Homo sapiens: one gene and its partner. The protein of the gene in region 2 purifies or fractionates together with the protein of the main gene of each other region. This does not show direct contact. Each region holds a gene or a part of one and is shown on either strand. Other genes may lie near its edges.

The links.
Region 1: the proteins of CIB2 (region 2) and POLE purify together in Homo sapiens (co-immunoprecipitation; 2 studies listed by BioGRID and IntAct, with this or other methods). This does not show direct contact.

Annotation. Positions count from the first base shown.
Region 1 is NC_000012.12:132,669,137-132,677,342, forward strand, and holds part of POLE (DNA polymerase epsilon catalytic subunit A), read right to left. Parts: intron 7,518-8,206; coding exon 7,410-7,517; intron 7,069-7,409; coding exon 6,958-7,068; intron 6,685-6,957; coding exon 6,599-6,684; intron 6,382-6,598; coding exon 6,262-6,381; intron 4,572-6,261; coding exon 4,439-4,571; intron 4,142-4,438; coding exon 4,028-4,141; intron 3,704-4,027; coding exon 3,491-3,703; intron 3,187-3,490; coding exon 3,079-3,186; intron 1-3,078. UniProt on the Homo sapiens protein: Catalytic component of the DNA polymerase epsilon complex. Participates in chromosomal DNA replication.
Region 2 is NC_000015.10:78,120,081-78,130,074, forward strand, and holds part of CIB2 (calcium and integrin-binding family member 2), read right to left. Parts: intron 3,660-9,994; coding exon 3,625-3,659; intron 582-3,624; exon of another isoform or gene 488-581; intron 1-487. UniProt on the Homo sapiens protein: Calcium- and integrin-binding protein that plays a role in intracellular calcium homeostasis. Acts as an auxiliary subunit of the sensory mechanoelectrical transduction (MET) channel in hair cells.

The DNA of each region.
Region 1 (8,206 bases), on a different chromosome or scaffold from region 2:
AATTACTTGAACACTAAACTCTCCTTAGTATTAAAAAAAATCCTTAGGCCAGGTGCAGTGGTTCATGCTTGTAATCCTAGCACTTTCGGAGACCGAGGCCAGAGGATCACTTGAGCCCAGGAGTTCGAGACCAGCCTGAGCAACACAGTGGGACCCCCGTCTCTATAAAAAATAAAAAATTAGCCGTGTGTGGCGGTGGCACCTGTAGTCCCAGCTACTCGGAACGCTGGGGTGGAAGAATCGCTTGAGCCCGTGAGGTCAAGGCTGTAGTGAGCCCAGATTGCACCACTGCACTCCAGCCTGGGCAACAGAGCCAGATCCTGTTTCAGAAAAAAAAAAAGAAAAAGAAAAATCCTTAAAACCCTCCAAAGTAGTAAAAATAGAAAACACACCTAAAATTTTAAGAAAAAAGTGATTACAAGGAATAACATCTATTCCATAGAACAGGAAATACCACAACAGTAACACCTATTGTTTCTACTTGAATTACAGATAAACGAATCAGCCGGGGAAGAGCCTCCACTGCACCCTTCTCTGCCCAGTAACGGCGTGTTCTGAAAGGCTGTCCAGTCAAGAAGGGGAGGATGGGCTGGGACAAGTGAATGGCCAAGTTTCCATGGTGGGGACACCACCTGGACATGCCCCACGTGGCTGTGAGCCCCTGCTGACATCCCCCCAGCCACCCTCCGCCCAACAGGTGACCCTTCAGGGACACAAAGGCGATCCTGGGCTTCCCTTTCAAGGGCACTTGCGAGGACTTAGGAATCGCTAACAGGACAATGTCATCTACAGAGCTCCCTTCCTCACTCACCAGGGAGCCTGGCGTCCTCACATCTACAGAGCTCTCTTCCTCACTCACCAGGGAGCCTGGCATCCTCACATCTACCACACCTCCAGCCTCACTCTACCTGCCCATCTCACTGTTTCTTAAAGACTTTAAATATCTGCTTCTAGGTCGGGCGCGGTGGCTCACGCCTGTAATCCCAGCACTTTGGGAGGCCAAGCGGGCAGATCAGCTGAGGTCGGGAGTTCGAGACCAGCCTGGCCAACATGGAGAAACCCTGTCTCTACTAAAAATACAAAAAAAAAATTACCCAGGCGTGGTGGCAAGCGCCTGTTATCCCAGCTACTCAGGAGGCTGAGGCAGGAGAATCTCTTGAACCCAGGAGGCAGAGGTTGTGGTGAGCCGAGATCATGCCATTGCACTCCAGCCTGGGCAACAAGAGTGAAACTCTGTCTCAGATTCTGAGACGTCTCGCCACCACGCCTGGGTAATTTTTTTTTGTATTTTTAGTAGAGACGGGGTTTCTCCATGTTGGCCAGGCTGGTCTCAAACTCCTGACCTCAGGTGATCCACCCGCCTCAGCCTCCCAAAATGCTGGGATTCCAGGCTGCCCAGGCTGGAGTGTAGTGGAGCGATCTCGGCTCACTGCAAGCTCCGCCTCCCGGGTTCTTGCTATTCTCCTGCCTCAGCCTCCCGAGTAGCTGGGACTACAGGTGCCCGCCACCACGCCCGGCTAATTTTTTTATATTTTTTTAGTAGAGACGGGGTTTCACCGTGTTAGCCAGGATGGTCTCAATCTCCTGACCTCGTGATCCACCTCGGCCTCCCAAAGTGCTGGAATTACAGGCGTGAGCCACCGTGCCCGGCCATGGCCGACATTCTTTAACTCCTATTTGTTATTCAGACAAGGCTCTCTTCCTGATCGGTTCATAAGAGTTCCCTGAAGTATAATAATGGATGTGGCTGACAATAGCCAAACAGTGCTTCACAGCTTGCCAAGAGTGTACACATATTCTTGTTTAAATTTTGACTAGTGAATCTATTACAAGATGTTTCTTGAGGGCAGGCACAGTGGCTCACACCTGTAATCCCAGCACTTTGGGAGGCTGAGGTGGGCAGATCACTTACAGTCAGGAGTTCGAAAGCAGCCTGGCCAACGTGGTGAAACCTCATCTCTACTAAAAATACAAAAATTGGCCAGGCATGGTGGTGGGCACCTGTAATCCCAGCTACTCAGGAGGCTGAGACAGGAGAATCGCTTGAACCCAGGAGGCAAAGGTTGCAGTAAGCCGAGATCATGCCATTGCACTCCAGTGTGGGTGACAGAGCAAGACTCCGTCTCAAAAAAAAAAAAAAAAAAAAAAAAAGTTTCTTGGCATCAATGTGAAAACTGTTAAAAACTCTAAACCAGCAACCTCACTGAACATGATGTAGTGCTGCACAGTGCCTGACATAAAGACCTGAGATAGGCCAGGCGCGGTGCCTCACACCTGTAATCCCAGCACTTTGGGAGGCCAAGGCAGGCGGATCACAAGGTCAGGAGTTCAAGATCAGACTGGACAACATGGTGAAACCCTGTCTCTACTAAAAATACAAAAACTAGCCAGGTGTGGTGGCGGATGCCTGTAATCCCAGCTACTGGGGAGCCTGAGGCAGGAGAATTGCTTGAACCCGGGAGGCAGAGGTTGCAGTGAGCCAAACTCATGCCATTGCACTCCAGCCCAGGCCAACAACAGCGAGACTCCATCTCAAAAAGGGAAAAAAAAAAAAAAAAAAAAAAAAGACCTGAGATGTGCCATGTCCTGAGGAACAGGGATCAGAGAAGAACTGGTGTCTCCCTCTCCAGTCACATAACACACTTTGTAAGTGTGCTTTCTAACCATTATGTAAACAGATTTTACAGTCACTAATCCTGTCATTTGTAGGAATTTACTGTCATTTTTAAGTCTCAACAACAAAAAGTAAATAAAATTTAAAACCTCCAATGGCTCCCCAGTGCCTATAAAATAAAGTCCTAATGCTTTAAAACAGGACACGGGATACATCCCACCAGGACCCACCTTCCATGTTACTGCATTTCAGGAGCAGCTCACACCCCACCTCTCATGAAGCCCTCCGACCTTGTGACAGCATCACACGTCACAACCATGACTGCCCTGTCCCACCAGAGACCCTGTGTCATCCGTCCACAGCACCACACGCAGCAGGTGCACAATAAACGTGCTGCTGAAAGACGTGGTCTGTGAAGAAGGCGCCAAACACAGACTGGCTCTTCCTGCCTCCCTGATGGTTACCTCTTCAAAGTTGGTGACTTGCTCCACAGGCACTTTCTCCTCTTCCTCAAGGGCGTGGCGCAAGGTCTTCTCAACCCGCTGCAGCAGGAAGTCAAAGGCGGCAGGATTCTAGCACAACAGTGAGACGACGGGGTCAGAGGGGAAACACACCCACACTAGCCTGCCTCAGGTTTGACGCTGTGGCTGCACGTGGCAGGTTGTGCCCGAGAAAGCTCCGGAAGGACTCATGTGCACAATCTGCAGTGCACTGCCCTAAAGAAGCCCCCGGGGGGTGCTGGGCCAGAGAAGCCACACCCGGTGAGGGGCCGTGGGACAGGATGGGGAGAAGGGGCTTTATTTCAGCCCCTGCAGCTTCTGGGTCCTACCACAGCACAAGAGTGGGAAGAATCTGAATCCCAGGGAAGAAGCACACCATCCTAAACCGGCAAGGGATATCGCTGCGGAAAACCCCAGACTCGAGGGCCTCCACGTGGCCCCCGACGTAGGTCTCAGAGTCCAGCACGTGTCCGTCGTCCGTCAGCTTATTGAACTCCTGCTCTTGCTTGTTGGGGAAGATGATGTTGGCGTGGAAGGCCTGCACCATCAGCAAGGCCTCACACAGAGTGCCAGAGCCCTTCCGCAGCACCTGCAAGAGAAACCAAGGCTTCCAGCCAAAAGCAACACCAAAGGCCCTGACTTGCAGGCAAAGTCCAGGAACCTAAGCTGAACTTCAGTGTGAAAGGAGAGAAAACCTCGTGGTAAATGGCTGCAAATTCTGCCTCCTGTGGTTTCTTCCTCACACCAGGGCCAGAGAATTCCCAAAGGACATCCCTGACGTCACACACCAGAATTCTACTGCCGCCTCTGGTGCCAGCACTCCTGGGACATCCACCTCCATTCAGCTCCAGTGCATTTGGAATGGGGCAAGGGCTGAGGAGGCCAGGGTGCCGACAGGACAGATAATGCTCACCTCGTCGGGCTCCATGGGAATAATGGTGCACAGAGCAAAGATGAATGGGTGGACGTACTTCATGTACAGGTAGTAAGTGGCGACAGCATCTGACACAGAATACGTGGCCAGAGTCTGAGGAGAGAACGCCAGAGAGCAGGGCCATCAAAAATCAAGAGCCCAGGGTCAAGTGTGAAGCACAGAAAGCAAAGCCTGGCCTGACCAGCCTGCCGCACACACAGTAAGGAGACCGGCACAGGACAAAACACGTGTGTCCCGGAGACACAGCCTGCTGGGTGGAGCGGGCTGGCATACATGCGTGCACACGGCAGCAGGGGGAGCCGGGATGTGGCTCACATGCCTGGGGCTGCTCCGTGGCCATCTGGATGCGTGCACACGGCAGCAGGGGCAGCCGGGATGTGGCTTACGTGCCTGGGGCTGCTCCGTGGCCATCCGGCACATGTCCTCCGGGTCTAGCTCCACGGGATCATAGCCTAGCTTGGCCTTGGCGGCCGCCTTGAGATTATGACTGCCCACAGGAAGGTAACTGTCCCTCTTCACCCACCTGGAAGGAGAATGAGAACAGAAGCCAGGATGATTCTAACATGCAGCCCGGGAACCCCTGAGAACTGGCAAAACTGGGCACCACACAGACAGATGCAAGTTCCTAACAGGCACCCAGGAGCCTCACACCAAGGCCCCACATGGTGTAGACACCTTGTGAAAACCCTTCATCAGGATCTAGTTAATCTCACAGACCTATCCACAACACAAGGAAGCACCAGGACTGGTCCTTCCGGCCCTCGCCTTCCTCCCATCCTCAGCAGAGTTTGTGGCCTCTCCGACGGGCGCCCCACCTCCTTGGGCCTCTCCCCAGACCTCAGGTCTGCACCCCTGGGGCCTAGTTCTATCAACCACACTGATCTTCTCTCCTCACACTGTCCCTTCAGCACGGAAACACTCAAGCCCACCCTCCTTTAATAGAAGGCAAGATGTGATCAGATGCCAAGAAGAATAAAAATTTAAAAAATAAATAAAAAATAAAAATTAAGAAAAGAAGGCCCCCCACACTCTACCCGGAACCTGTCTCTACCTCCTCCCTACAGACGCATTCCCTGGAGCAGCTGTCCAGGGGTCATGTCCGGTCTCCACCCCCCGCAGCCTCCACCCTGTGGCCTTCTTCTCTCACTTTACCTCTTGCCTTCAGTTCATCCACTACCCCAGCTTTCACCAAGACCCACCCGCAACCCAGTGAGTCCCAATCTACAGTGCGAGCCCAAACCAAGCCTCATGGTGGTCTTCAGGGCCCCCATATGGGTGGGGCTTCCAGGCTAGCATATCGGTAGCAGGGTCACCTCCTGCCTCAAGCCCCTTCTCTACCCATTCCCTGTCTCCACGGATGGCACAAAAACCCCAGGTGCCAACCCCTCCCTAAGAACCAGCATCCCTGGGCCTCCCCCTGCCCCACATGACAGATCCTGAATCCTCACAACCCTCACTCCCTGCCTTGGATCAGGACTGTCACACCGTCACACGCTAAACCGGCCCCAGCCTCCTGGCCTCCCTCTCCAAGCCAAGTGCTGAGCATCAGAGCTAAACAGAAACGCATTCAGGCTGCAAGCACCCCAGTGGCACTGTGCAGAATACAGAGGCCGTGGAGGCCCCTCCATTCCCTTCCTTCCCTCCCTCCCTTCCCTTCCTTCCCTCCCTCCCTTCCCTTCCTTCCCTTCCCTCCTTTCCTCCCTCCCTTCCCTTCCTTCCCTTCCAGCCTCCTTCTGTTGGCATTTCCACATCCACCTGTCTTCCCAACCAGTCATGTCAGAGCCCCCGAACGCCGTGACTCTCCGAAGCTCTGAGCTGCCTCCCACCCTAGCTCATATGGAATCTGTGGTTGTCCCGTGAGGCTTGTCCTGTGAGGCAGCCGGGCTGCCACATCCCAACCTTGCCTGGGCAGAGCAGCTCCATGAGGTCCTAGGTCTGGGACCTGTCAGCTGAGTGCGTCTTTCCAGCGGCTTCCCCACCCCAGAGGCTGATGCTCAATGTGCCTGGTCACTGATGAATTGTCAGTCAACAGTCAAAGACAGCACATCCCGGGCCCTGGCAGGGTTGCAGCTGCCATACTCTTGGGTGACCTGAAACGGCCTCTCGGAGGCCACCCTCCTCCCATGAGATGTGGTGACAGCACAGTCTGCAAGAGGCCTTCAGATCTCGCTCACGGACAGCAGTGAGGAGCCATGCTGCTCTGTGGCCCCTACCTGAGGCAGTCCATGTGGATGCACTGGGGCGCCTTGTACTCCCCCTGGCTGTCCTTCTGGAAGCCTATCTCCTGCTGCATGCTCAGACCGTGGACTGCTGCCCGGGCCTCCACAAATGGCCTGGGTTGGAAAGAGGACAGACAAGCAAGTGGGCAGGTCAGGCTCTAATGCCCCTTTCTCCATTCCTCCCTCAGACCCAGGGAGGAACCCAGACACGGGAGGTGCAGAGTGAACCCAGGAGCCACCTCCTAAGTCGACATGGGAAGCGCCCCTGCACCACGCAACGCCCTCCCTCTCAAATGCTGCCCAGTTACTCATAGAGAAGACACAGACTCACCAGTCAAAAAAGTCCCCGTTGTAGGTGACCATGATGGTGGGTTTGGTCTCCTGGACGTGTTCAAACCACCTTTGGATCAGATGAGCCTGAACCCAAGTCACAGCAGTCAGAGGTCTGCTCTTTCTCTTCTTCAAGCTATTCCAAATTCCTCTCCCAAAGTTCAGAAGCAGCAGCCTCATGTTGGCCCTTATTCCTGCCCCGCCCCTCCGCCCGTCTCTGGCAGAAAAGACGGTCATACCCTGAGAACAAAGCTCATGGAGCTGCAATTCTGATCTGACGGAATGCCTGAGGCCTTGGAAAGATCCACATGTCCGTTCTTCCCACAATACCGGGTAGTTTCCCAAGTGATACCTCCTTACCTCATCGGGTTCATTGAAGACACAAAAGGGGCCTTCATATTCTGGCTTGGGGGTGAACTCAAAATCTTCAATATCTTCTGAAACAATCTCCCTGTTGGTGATGAGGTAGCCCTAGCCAAGTTCATTAGCAATCAGCACAAGTCAGAGGCTGCAAAGCCAAGAAATGGCGTTCCCACCCTGCCCACACACTCTGCCTAGAGATTCTCACTACAAAGAAGTCCACAGCAATGTGAAAGTGCTTTAAGCTTCCTGAGAAGAGACGCTCTGTGTGTGGATTCCCACTCGAAAGGGGAGGGTACAGCTGGAGGTCGGAACGGCTTGGTTGCTCCCATTCCTGGACTAACTCATTATTCACTCAACAAATACTAACAGTGGGGCAGATGCTGCTGTAGTATGGGGACCAGACAAGGTCCCCATCCCAGGAGCTTACTTCCCAGAAGCCACCTGCTCACCTGGCCATCGATCATGTAGGAAATCATCATAATCTGGTCTGTCTCAGCATCAGGAAACTTGAGGGGCAGTTTGGTCGTCTCAATGTCAAATGCCAAAACCACAGGGTCCTGTGGGGACAAAATAAGCATAAAGCCAAGCTCTAAACTCCCCATTAGGCCTCCCTGAACACCCACCCCCAGCCTGCTCTACCTCCCTCTGGTTGTTAAAAGAGTCAAAAGGCTCTAGAGCTGGGAGAAGGACCCTAAGACTAACCAACCTACATCAAGAGTATCACGACTCCCTATGGTATGAAAACTGACATACCTAAGAGAGCAGCTGATCACAGGACAAGCCTAAAATCACAGAACTTTAGGAGAAAAACTCTTCAAAAGACATCACCTCATTCTGGTGGTTATGACAACTCTGAAAGGTAACTGTGGCACAGAGATGATATCTTCATTTCGGAAAAGAGAAAACTGAATACAAAGACTTTCCCAACACCACAAAGTCATGTTTGAACCAAGGCCTTCTAGTTACAAATCCATTTTTCACCATGTCCCTTCACTATCAACTACCCAAACGGAAGTCCCAGCTTTCCCTCGAGTGTCCAAATCCTGCCTAGCTCAAACACTGATGTCATACAGTGATATACAACAAAAAAGGAAATGATACTGTCAGAAACTGATGAAAAATTCTAACTCCATATTTCCTTTAATAAAGTATTTGGGGGAAAAGCAGCAAACATATCTTTGAGTCAGATTCACTCTCCAGCACTGAAGAATATTCTCTCCAGAAAACTGGAAATTTTAGGATGAAG
Region 2 (9,994 bases):
TTTTTAGAGACAGGGGTCTCACCATGTTGGCCAGACTGGTCACAAACCCCTGAGTTCATGTAATCCACCGGCCTCGGCCTCTCAAAGTGCTAGGATTACAGGTGTGAGCCAACGTACCCGACCACAATCTGACTTTTTGATAAACACATACAAAAGAAAAACACTGGCATAATATATACCAAAAGATTAACAGCCTTATTTCTGGGTCATAGGCTTACAGGTAATTTTTTTTGTCTTCTCTTGACTGGCTTCATTTTCTAATTTTTCTACAATCATTATGTATATGTGTAGTAAGTAATTAAAATAGGTTACACAAAGTTTTTAAAAGGTTGAGAAAATAAACAATAAAATAACAAGTAGGCAAATACCTTGGAGTGCTGGCTGGGTGGGCCTCTCTGTGTACCAAGGGGACAAGGACTACTGTCCCGCTGATTAAAGAGCACAGCCTAATTAGGGCACAAGGGAAGTTGAAGTGCTAAGCTCTTACCTATAAAAAGCAAGGTGACTGAATAGGGTGGGCTGCCCACTCGGCCTCAATGTGGGAATGCAGGAGCTGTGTCCTGGGGAGCAATCGGATCTACCTGGGTGGGGGCAGGGCAGAGGGAAGGAGAATTGGAGGCGGGCTATCTGTGACTCGGTATCACTGCCCCAAAGTTGCCACAGAGCTGGGCCCCAACCTGCAAAGAAAAACCTCCTGCTCAAGTTTCCTCCTAGCCATCTGGTCAGTACGCAGGGAGCAGCTTACCAAGAAAACCATCCTGGTGGGGGTGGGGAGTAGCATCCCTGAAAGGCCCTTGGGAGCAGGGAAGATGAGCATGGCCTGGGGCTGGATAGCCTGGCTCTGCAGCTGACTTTGCCCTCTCTGGGCTCCAGGCCTCAGTTTTGTCACCCGGACCTGAGATGTGAACAGTGGAGAGGGCTCTCCTGGAGGGGCAGTCAGTCATGCTGGCCTCTCCACAGAGAAGGCTGGAGAAAAGCGAAGGGGGGTGAAACTGGAATTGAGCCATCATGGCCATGCCTGTTCCCTCTAGGGACAGGCAATCCCGAATCTGTCTTGTCTTAACTACCCTTCCCTGAGGGTGGACAGGTGGGCAGCAAACTCCAGGTAGCTCTTTTCATGTTTAATAACACCATCACCCAGCCCTCCCAGACACAGGGGCCTGTGAGAAAACAGCTCCTGCAAGCAATGTCATCCCCATGCTGCAGACGGGGCCTCAGGCTTGGGTTTTGCTCTGGTGTTGAATTACAGAGCCTAGGGTCCTGATGCGTGCAGAGGGGTGCAGGCCAGGGCTGTGGGGAGCCAGGACGCCTCTCCTCAAGCCCTCTCACCTGCCTGGAGCCCCTCATTTTCCAAGGGGCCAGGGATACCCCTGATATGGTTTGGCTGTGTCCCTACCCAAATCTCATCTTGAATTGTAGTTCCCATAATCCCTACGTGTCATGGGAGGGACCTGGTGGGAGGTAATTGAATCATGGGGGCAGTTACCCCGAGGCTGTTCTCATGATAGTGAGTTCTCACGAGATCTGATGGTTTTATAAGGGGCTTCTCCCCCTTTGCCCAGCACTTCTCTTTCCTGCCGCCATGTGAGGAAGGATGTGTTTGCCTCCCCTTCTGCCATGATTGTAAGTTTCCTGAGGCCTCCCCAGCCATGTGGAGCCATGAATCAATTAAACCTCTTTCCTTTATAAATTACCCAGTCTCAGGCAGTTCTTTATAGCAGCATGAGAATGGACTAAAACAACCACCAAAGGCCCATCATATTGGATCGGATTCCCGGACTGGCCTTCAAGCTCCTCTCTCCTCTTCCCCACACAGGCAATCTTGCTGCTGTCAATGAGACCACGGGAGGATGGGGGTGGGAGTGGGAGCAGGAGAAGCTGGCCTGTGTCTCACCTCTGCTGCTCCCCAGCCTGGAATGTTCTCCCTCAGCCAATCCTACCTGTCTTTCACCCACACACTCTTCATATGGTCACTGGTGGCTAACAGGTGCCATGCTCCCTGTTAGTCCTGCCTGATCACAAGTCTGGTGGGGAGCTGGGCCCCTGGGTCCAGGAACCCAAGGAGCCCCTAACAGGCTGTTAGAGCAGCTGGGATAGCACTAGGGTGGCAGGGTGTTGGGGGTGCTTATAAAGGAGATGATTCTGGAGTTGGGTCTGGAAGGATGCATAGCAATGCTGTGGGCAGAGGAGAGGCGAAGGACACTCCAGGGAGTGGAGATAGCCAGTGCAAAGGCCGAGGCAAGGGGCTTTTGTTGCCAGAATGAAAATGGCCGTGGGCCTCAGAAGACAGGCAGCTTGGGCTTGGCATCTACAAAGGTAGGGAACCCGAAGCTCCCTGTGAGGCTCAAATGAGGCTCCATGCCAAGAACTCTGAAAGGTAAAAGGTGCCACAAGAATGCCAGGGGTGACAGCTTTGTTATTCCAATACCGAGAGCCATCCTGTCGAAATGGGGACCTCACCCCTGACATCTCTCAAGCTACAGGGCAAATCCCACTTATCAAACACTATACCCCAGTGTTGCTGCCTCTCGGCAATGCTATGAGGGTAGGTTTCACTATCCCTATTATACAGAAGAAAACTGAGGCTCAGGGAAGGTCAAATGGTTGCCCAAGGCCACAGATGCCAGGTCTACTGATGCCAGGCCTGGAGGCTTTGCCCCTTGCTCAGACTCTCTAAGGTGGTGGAAGTGGGGTATCCCCTGCCCATGCAGGTGACAGGTTGGAATAGCAGCCTGGGTAGAGAGGAAAGCCGAGAGGCACTGCCTGAATGAGCAGAATGGTTAGGGCAGTGACAAGCTGCAGCACAGCTCTCTTGGGAAGCTGCAATGGGCTCTGGTCCCAGCCTGACCATCGATCTCCAGGGCAAGTGATCCTGGGACTTTGCTGGCTTTTAGTGCCACCCAGGCAGAGGGGCCTAGTGAGGCCCGTGGGGCAGTTTTCTTGGTATTCAGTGATTCCTGCTCACCCACTGGTCCTGGGGTTCTGAGGCTGCCGATCCCCTTTATCTTTCCCATCCAGGTCCACCCCCACCCCCATCAACACCAAGGAGAAGGGCTGTCCTGGGAAGAAGCAGAGCCCTGATGAATAGCTCAGGGGTGGTGGCCATGCCCTCAACTTTTAGACGTCCTAGGAGTGGAAGAACATCAAAGCTAGAGCCAAAGGGCCCTTAGGGACCCCTGGTCTAACAGACAGGGACTCCCTGCTATACCAGGACCCAGGATGCAGTGAAATAGCAAGGGACCTGGAGTCAGAGGCTGGGTCTTGAGTCCCTGGCTCTGTGACTTTAGCCAAGTTGCTAAGCTCCATCTGTCAAATGGGGATAAATGGATTCTCTTGTTACAAGGTCACAATGAGGATTAAATAAGAATGTGCCGGAAACTACCCACCTGAAAGCTCATAGTAAGTAGATGTTCATTCCCCAGCAGGAGGATCTGGGCCCTGGGAGGAGTGGGAAGCTCTAACTCCATCCTAGCCCAGTGGCCGAGTGGGGACCTGAATGTGGCTCCTGATACATGCTGATGCTCTGCCTCAGCCCCAGGAGCACAGCCAGCCCATGTGGGGTGCCCCAGCCTCACCCCGGCCCCAGTCCCAGTCCCAACAGGGTGAACGAGAAGCCACACTTACTTGAGGATGTCCTTCTTATTGAAGAAGGTGCAGTCCTGTTGAGGGAAAACACACAACACACAGTCAGTGTGCGGCTCCCAGACTTTCTTCCTCAGAGGCCTCGATGCCACAGGGCTCACAGGGGATAGCTCCGGACTGGGGACAGAAGAGTCACTACTATCCCTTTCCACCTTGCCCTCACCCACTGGGGACAGCTGGCTCTAGTAGGTATAGAAAATGCCTCCCAAAACCTTTATCCATCCTGGGCTAGGCCTAAGGAGCTTAGTGCATGGTGGGGGGCTGTAGCATGCTTTAGGGTACACATGTAGGAGGAAGATGAATGCTCACAGGTATGCGTGGCTGATTTGAGTGCCAGTGGGATACACTGGGGGATGACAGGGAGGTGGCTGGGAGACAACTCCGAATGAGGACCCACAGGGCCACCTCGTGTAGCTGCATGGGGTGCCATCCTCACTGTAGCCCTGAGCATGGTGCTAGGGGGGTTGTGCAGTCCCAGGCTCAGAGACTGAGAGTTCCAGGCACATAGACTGGGGAAGCATCAGTATATACTTGGTGTCTGAAGCCAGAAAGGGATGAGGTCACCCAGAGAAGGGAGTGAAGAGGCCAGGGAGATATGGGAGGGAGAAACGTGGGCAGGGGGAACCAGGTAGCATCTGGGGTAGAGGTGAGGGTAGGGGCTGCTGGGGATCCCCAGGTAAGCATTACTCCAGGTGGGGGGCAGCACTTGGCTCCTAGGGCCATCCAGATGACAAACTCATCTCGGAGGGGTCCTGTCTTTGTTTAGATGAACTGCCTCTATCCACAGCTTGGCCTGCCCAAGGTGAGTATCAACCACTGGGAGTCAGTGACAATGGCCACTATGCCAGCCCTTGGTGAAAAGTATAGAGGTGAAGAGGACCCAGCACTTTGTAAAATGCCCAACCGTAAAGGGCTTTTGTGCACCTCCCCTGCTGTTTAGCTCCTCCGCCTTTGTCCACTGTTACAGCATGAAGCAAGAAGGCCTCCTAGGTCTGCAGAGCCCAGAGCCCATAGGGCCTCCTGGGGCCATAAGCTGACCAGAGCCAGCTCTGATGAGGAGTGAATGGCTGAAACTCAGGCCTGCAAACAGCCAGGCTTGCCCTGAATGAGACCTGAAGCCGCTGGACATCAGGGCAATTGGATTGCGTGTTAAGAGGCCCAAAGAGAGGACGCCTGCAGGATGCACACAACATCTGGGGTTTCCACTGGGTGCCTTCGGGAGAGCTGAAAAGGGGAGAGCTGGTGGGAATTTCCAGGCCCCATTTGGCCCAACAAGTCTGTCCTTCTAAGCTGCTGCTCCCTGGGAGTTAGACTAAGGATCCATGCTGGCTTCTTGGAAACACGAGGGGTTCTCCTGGGGGTCTCAGCTTTGCTTTTGACAGTGGTTCCTCTGTAGGAGCCCAGAAAGGCTCAGGCTGGGGAAGCAGTGCCCCCTGCTCCTCACCCAACACAGACAGAAAACTCCCTACTTAGCAGGCCTCAGGCACAGACAGGCTGGAGACACAGTGGGCTGATTTATCAGCAAACTCCAGAAACATGGTGCAGAATGTGGACTTCCCTCCACCCCAGGGCCGTTTCCATGGTCTAAGGTGCCCAGTGAGAAGGGCCAGGGCTCTCCCACCTAGCCTGGAGGAGGCAGTCAGCAGAACTGGAAATGGGGAGAGGTCCCAACTCCTGCTCTCTTCCCCCCGATCTGTCCTCCTTCCCCTCCCCTCTTCTCTCTCCTATCCCATGTGTTGGAAAGGAACTATCCAGGTCCTGATTCAAGGGTTCTCCTGACAAAAGATGCAAACACTTCCCCTATAACCCTGCTCCCTGTCACAATTACTTACACCTCCCTACATCAATGGTCCTCACGCTGTGGCTCCTGGACCAGCAGCATCAGCCTCACTGGGAACTTGGTGAAAATGTAGATTCTTAGGCTCCACTCCAGATCTCTTGAATCAGAAACTCTGTGGGTGGGGTCCAGGGATCTGCACTTTAAAAAACCCTCCCAATGATGCTGATGCATGTTGAAGTGTGAGGAAGTCTGCTCTAGAGCAGAATCACTTGGGGGACTGTTTAGGATACCTGTGTCCCCCATCCCTCAGCAGACCCCAGACAAATTGTAGAGAAATCCCCAAGGATGGATCCAGGCATTGGCTGTTTTCAAAGCCACTCAGGTGGTCCCAACGTGCAACCCAGGCTGAAAACCACATCACAACCAGTACATGATGTACCATGCACCTGGCACCTGGGGCTCTAAATATCCAATTTTTCTTAATCCTTATCATTAGCCAATGGGGGTGGGCATTATCTCTCTATCTTAAAGATGGGCAACTTGAGACTCAGCAAAGTTGAGTAGCTTGCCTTAAGTTGCACACACAGCCCAGGAGGGCTGGGAATGGAACTTAGGCCTCTGTGCTTCCCTTTCCCCTGCCCCCCCCCCTTTTTTTTTTGAGACGGAGTCTTGCTCTGTCACCCAGGCTGGAGTACAGTGGCATGATCTCAGCTCACTGCAACCTCCGCCTCCTGGGTTCAAGTGATTCTCCTGTCTCAGCCTTCCAAGTAGCTGGGATTACAGGCATGCGCCACCATGCCTGGCTAATTTTTGTATTCTTAGTATAGAGATGGGGTTTCACCATATTGGTCAGGCTGGTCTCGAACTCCTGACCTCAGGTGTTCACCCAACTAGGCTTCCCAAAGTGCCGGGATTATAGGCATGAGCTACCACGCATAGCCTTCTTTTTTTCTTTTTAATGGGAGTAGACCTTGGGGCCCTCACTGGCAAGGAAGCAGAGGCAAGAAAAGATCCTCTGTGCTTCTTGGCCACTGCCTATGACTACAAACAGAGCCATGACCACTGTACACCAGCCACTCCATGTCCTGCGTCTGCTGTGTATTCCTATACTTATACACAGCAGGTGCTTAATACAGGCTTGTGGGATGAGTGACCAGACTTTTCCATCTATGCCTTCCACAGCAGTTACGTTATTTCAGTGGCTGCAGAGTCCCTGCCTAGTCTTAATCTTTCTTCTCTTTCTGAACATTTAGTAACACCTATTTCTTGGTTTTAACATCACTGACAAAACTGCCATGAACCTGCTCATCAACTGATGTTTCACTTTTTCTTCTGTTCACTTGTTTCCCTGGGACTCACCCCAAGGAGGCAGTGCACAGGTAGTGAATATGGCAGGTGTTCTTAAAAGCTTCTCAGGGCTCAGGGTGGCCTAGAAGTGTGGCAGGGGAAAAGGTTTGGTAGTCAGGGTCAAATTCTAGTCTAGCTTCAGACCCTTAGGCAAGTCATTCTCCTTTCTGAGCCTCAGTTTCTGCATCTGTAAAGTGGAAATAGGCCTCTCTGAAGGGGACAGTGTGAAGAGCAAATGAGATAAGGTACAGGAAGTCTATAGGCCCCAGCTGATAGGAAAGAGTACAACAGCTCCATCCACCACCCAGGTCCCAAAGGCATCTCCCCAGAGTCGGTAGCTCTGCTGTCTTTCCCTTCTCTGGAGTCACCAAACACCCTGCCCACCACTACACCCTCAGCTGCCCTGGGAGCTACAGCCCTATGTCTGAAGGAACCCTTTCTTACACTTTTGGAGAGCAAGTGCCCCATCACTGCTTGGTTCCTGACAGTACACAGGGACACAGGGACAGGTCTTCCGGCAAAGGTCAGGTCTGGGTCATGAGGAGTGGAAGGGAGGGAAGGAGAGAGGGGGCCTAACCCAGGAGTGATGGGCTCTCAGAACATTGGCAGCAGAAAACAGGACAGGCTGGGCTTTTACAGTAGAAGCCCAGACGTTTTCCCAGTTAAGGCTTGAGTTCTGCCTCCGAGCCTATATTCACCCTATTCCCCAACTGGAGTGCCCTCTCCTCTTTCTCCAGGTTGTCCAAACCCTTTCTCCAAAGCTCAACTCAAGGGTGACTTGTTCCAGGTAACCCACCTGCCTCCCATCTCCTACATGCCTGGTCTGCCTGTGCCAGCTGTCAGGAGCCGAGCCATGGGCCCTCCCAGCTCTAATGGAAATGGCTCTCCATCCAGCTCTGCCAGCTCAGGCCTCAGCACTGCCCAGGGGACCATCACACGGCTCAAGGTCAGTCTCCAGTGATCTTAGTTGATCCCCACAAGAACCCTGTGACATGAGCACAGCTGGGTTAGTAGTTCCCATTTTAGAGGTGGAGACACTTAGGCCCAGAAGGGAACAGTGGCTTGCTAAGGCCCACAGCATCAACTACCCAGCTGACTTGAATCTAGGGCTTCAGAATCTTTGTCTAGAGTTCTTTGCTCTCCTGGAGCCACGCCTTAACAAATATTTGTTCATTCATTTGACAACATCCTCCAAACATCTCTTTTGTGCCTGGACAGAGGCCATACAAGAAGGAAGCTGGAGTGTAAACAGTGAGGTGCCCAGTATAAACCATTCTGTGGCCACACAAGGGACTGGGGATGTATATGTGTCAGGCTCCCTGAGTACTCCCAGCTGAATGGATTGGTGGAGAGAGAGTCAGGGAGCCCGTCCCAAAGAGGTGAGGCCTGGCCTGGACAGAAAGATGGGCCAGACTAGGTTAGCAAAGGAGCAGGGAGAGCAGCAGGAGAACAAGGGCCAGAGGTGAGGGAGGGCTTGGCTAGAAGCCCTTCAGTGTGCCTAAAACTTTGGGTGCAAAGGGAAAGGGAGTAAGAAATGAGGCTGGAGGCCCGGCGCGGTGGCTCACACCTGTAATCCCAACACTCTGGGAGGCCAAGGCAGGTGGATCACCTGAGGTCAGGAGTTTGAGACCAGCCTGGCCAACATGGCAAAACCCTGTTTTTACTAAAAATACAAAAATTAGATGGGCATGGTGGTGGGTGCCTGTAATCCCAGCTACTTGGGAGGCTGAGGCAGGGAAAATTGCTTGAACCTGGGAGGCGGAGCTGGGATGCGGAGGTTGCAGTGAGCCGAGATCACACCACTGCACTCCAGCCTGGGTGACAGGGCGAGCGAGACTCCGTCTCAAAAAAAAAAAAAAGGAAGAGAAAGAAAGAGATGAAGGAAGAGTGAGAGAACTAAGAGGGCGGGTGGCTGGAGGGGGATGGGCAGGAGGGGCGCAGGAGGGAGCAGTCAGACCTCCAGTTTGCAGGAGACTGAGCAGGCCTAGCCCAGGGCCCTGGCTGTCGTGATGGAGGAGGGGACCTCCAGGTGACCCACAAAAGAGGCTGAGTCACAGGCCTTGTTCTTAACTGAAAACATGGGCTGAGGGAGAGCAGAGAGTTGAAATGGCTGGAGGAGCAGCAGTGGGTGTTGGAGAGGCTGTGACCCCTGTTTTGGAGTTTGAGGGGTCTGGGGGATGGCCGTACAATGCAGAGGAGTGTTCTGGACAGAAGCTTAAATGTTGGGAATCACCGGCACCGGGAACCAAGAGGGTGCACCCTGCCCAGGAAAGGTTAGACTACCAGGCTGGGAGGTCCCAAGAAACCCTAGGTGTCACTTAGGGGAGAGGGTGCTGTAACTCAGGCTCACCCCCACTCAGCCCGGGCTGGCAATGGCTGGCTGGAGAGCCAGAGGGTAGGAGATGTGGGGCTCTCAGGTTTCACAGCTCTCATTTCTCCCACCCCGCCTGGCAGGGTCTAGCTAGGCTCTGGCAAAGAATCAGAACATAACACTGGGACTGGCTCCGATGAGTAACCCAATGCCAGGCTGGTTGGAGTGGGAACCTGGGCTCCCCACCCCCATGAAGCTACTCCTCACTTCTGAGCATGGCTTGCCTGCTTGCCCCTGCCCACTCCCAAGCCTTTATCCACGCTGTCCCCTCCACCTGGAATGCCTCCTCTGGGCCCCACTGGGCAAAACCCGACCTATCTTCCCAAGGCCTGCTCAAGTGCTGTATCGTTTCTGGACTTTGTCCCCCTTCCCTGCTGGCCTCCCACTGCCCACTAGTGCCCTTCCCTAGAACACACTCCACCACCTGCCTCTATCACAAGGGCCACACACTGGAGGTGAGAGTCTGTCTCTGAGTGTCTGAGACTGAGTGCCTTGGGAACAAAAAGCACACATGGCCCAGCCCAGCCCACTCCCAACTAAAGAAGTGAGCCTAGGAGTCAAGATTCGAAATCCTGTGTGAGCCCTGAATGGCTCCTCAGCCTCTGTTTACACGTCTGTAAAATGGGCTAATAATCCACCTCACTGTGATGATCAAGTGAGTTGATGCGTAGAGGGCATCAATTACTGTGCCTGGTACACAGCAGGTGCTCCATAAATGCGTCTCCCCTCTTCCTTCCCAGGGCCTCACCTGGGGAGCTGAGAAATCCATTACTGACAACTAGGGCTTCTAGGAGGAGAAGGGGCCTTTGTTTTACCTTCACCCACATCAGAGGACCCACACTTCACACCTGCTT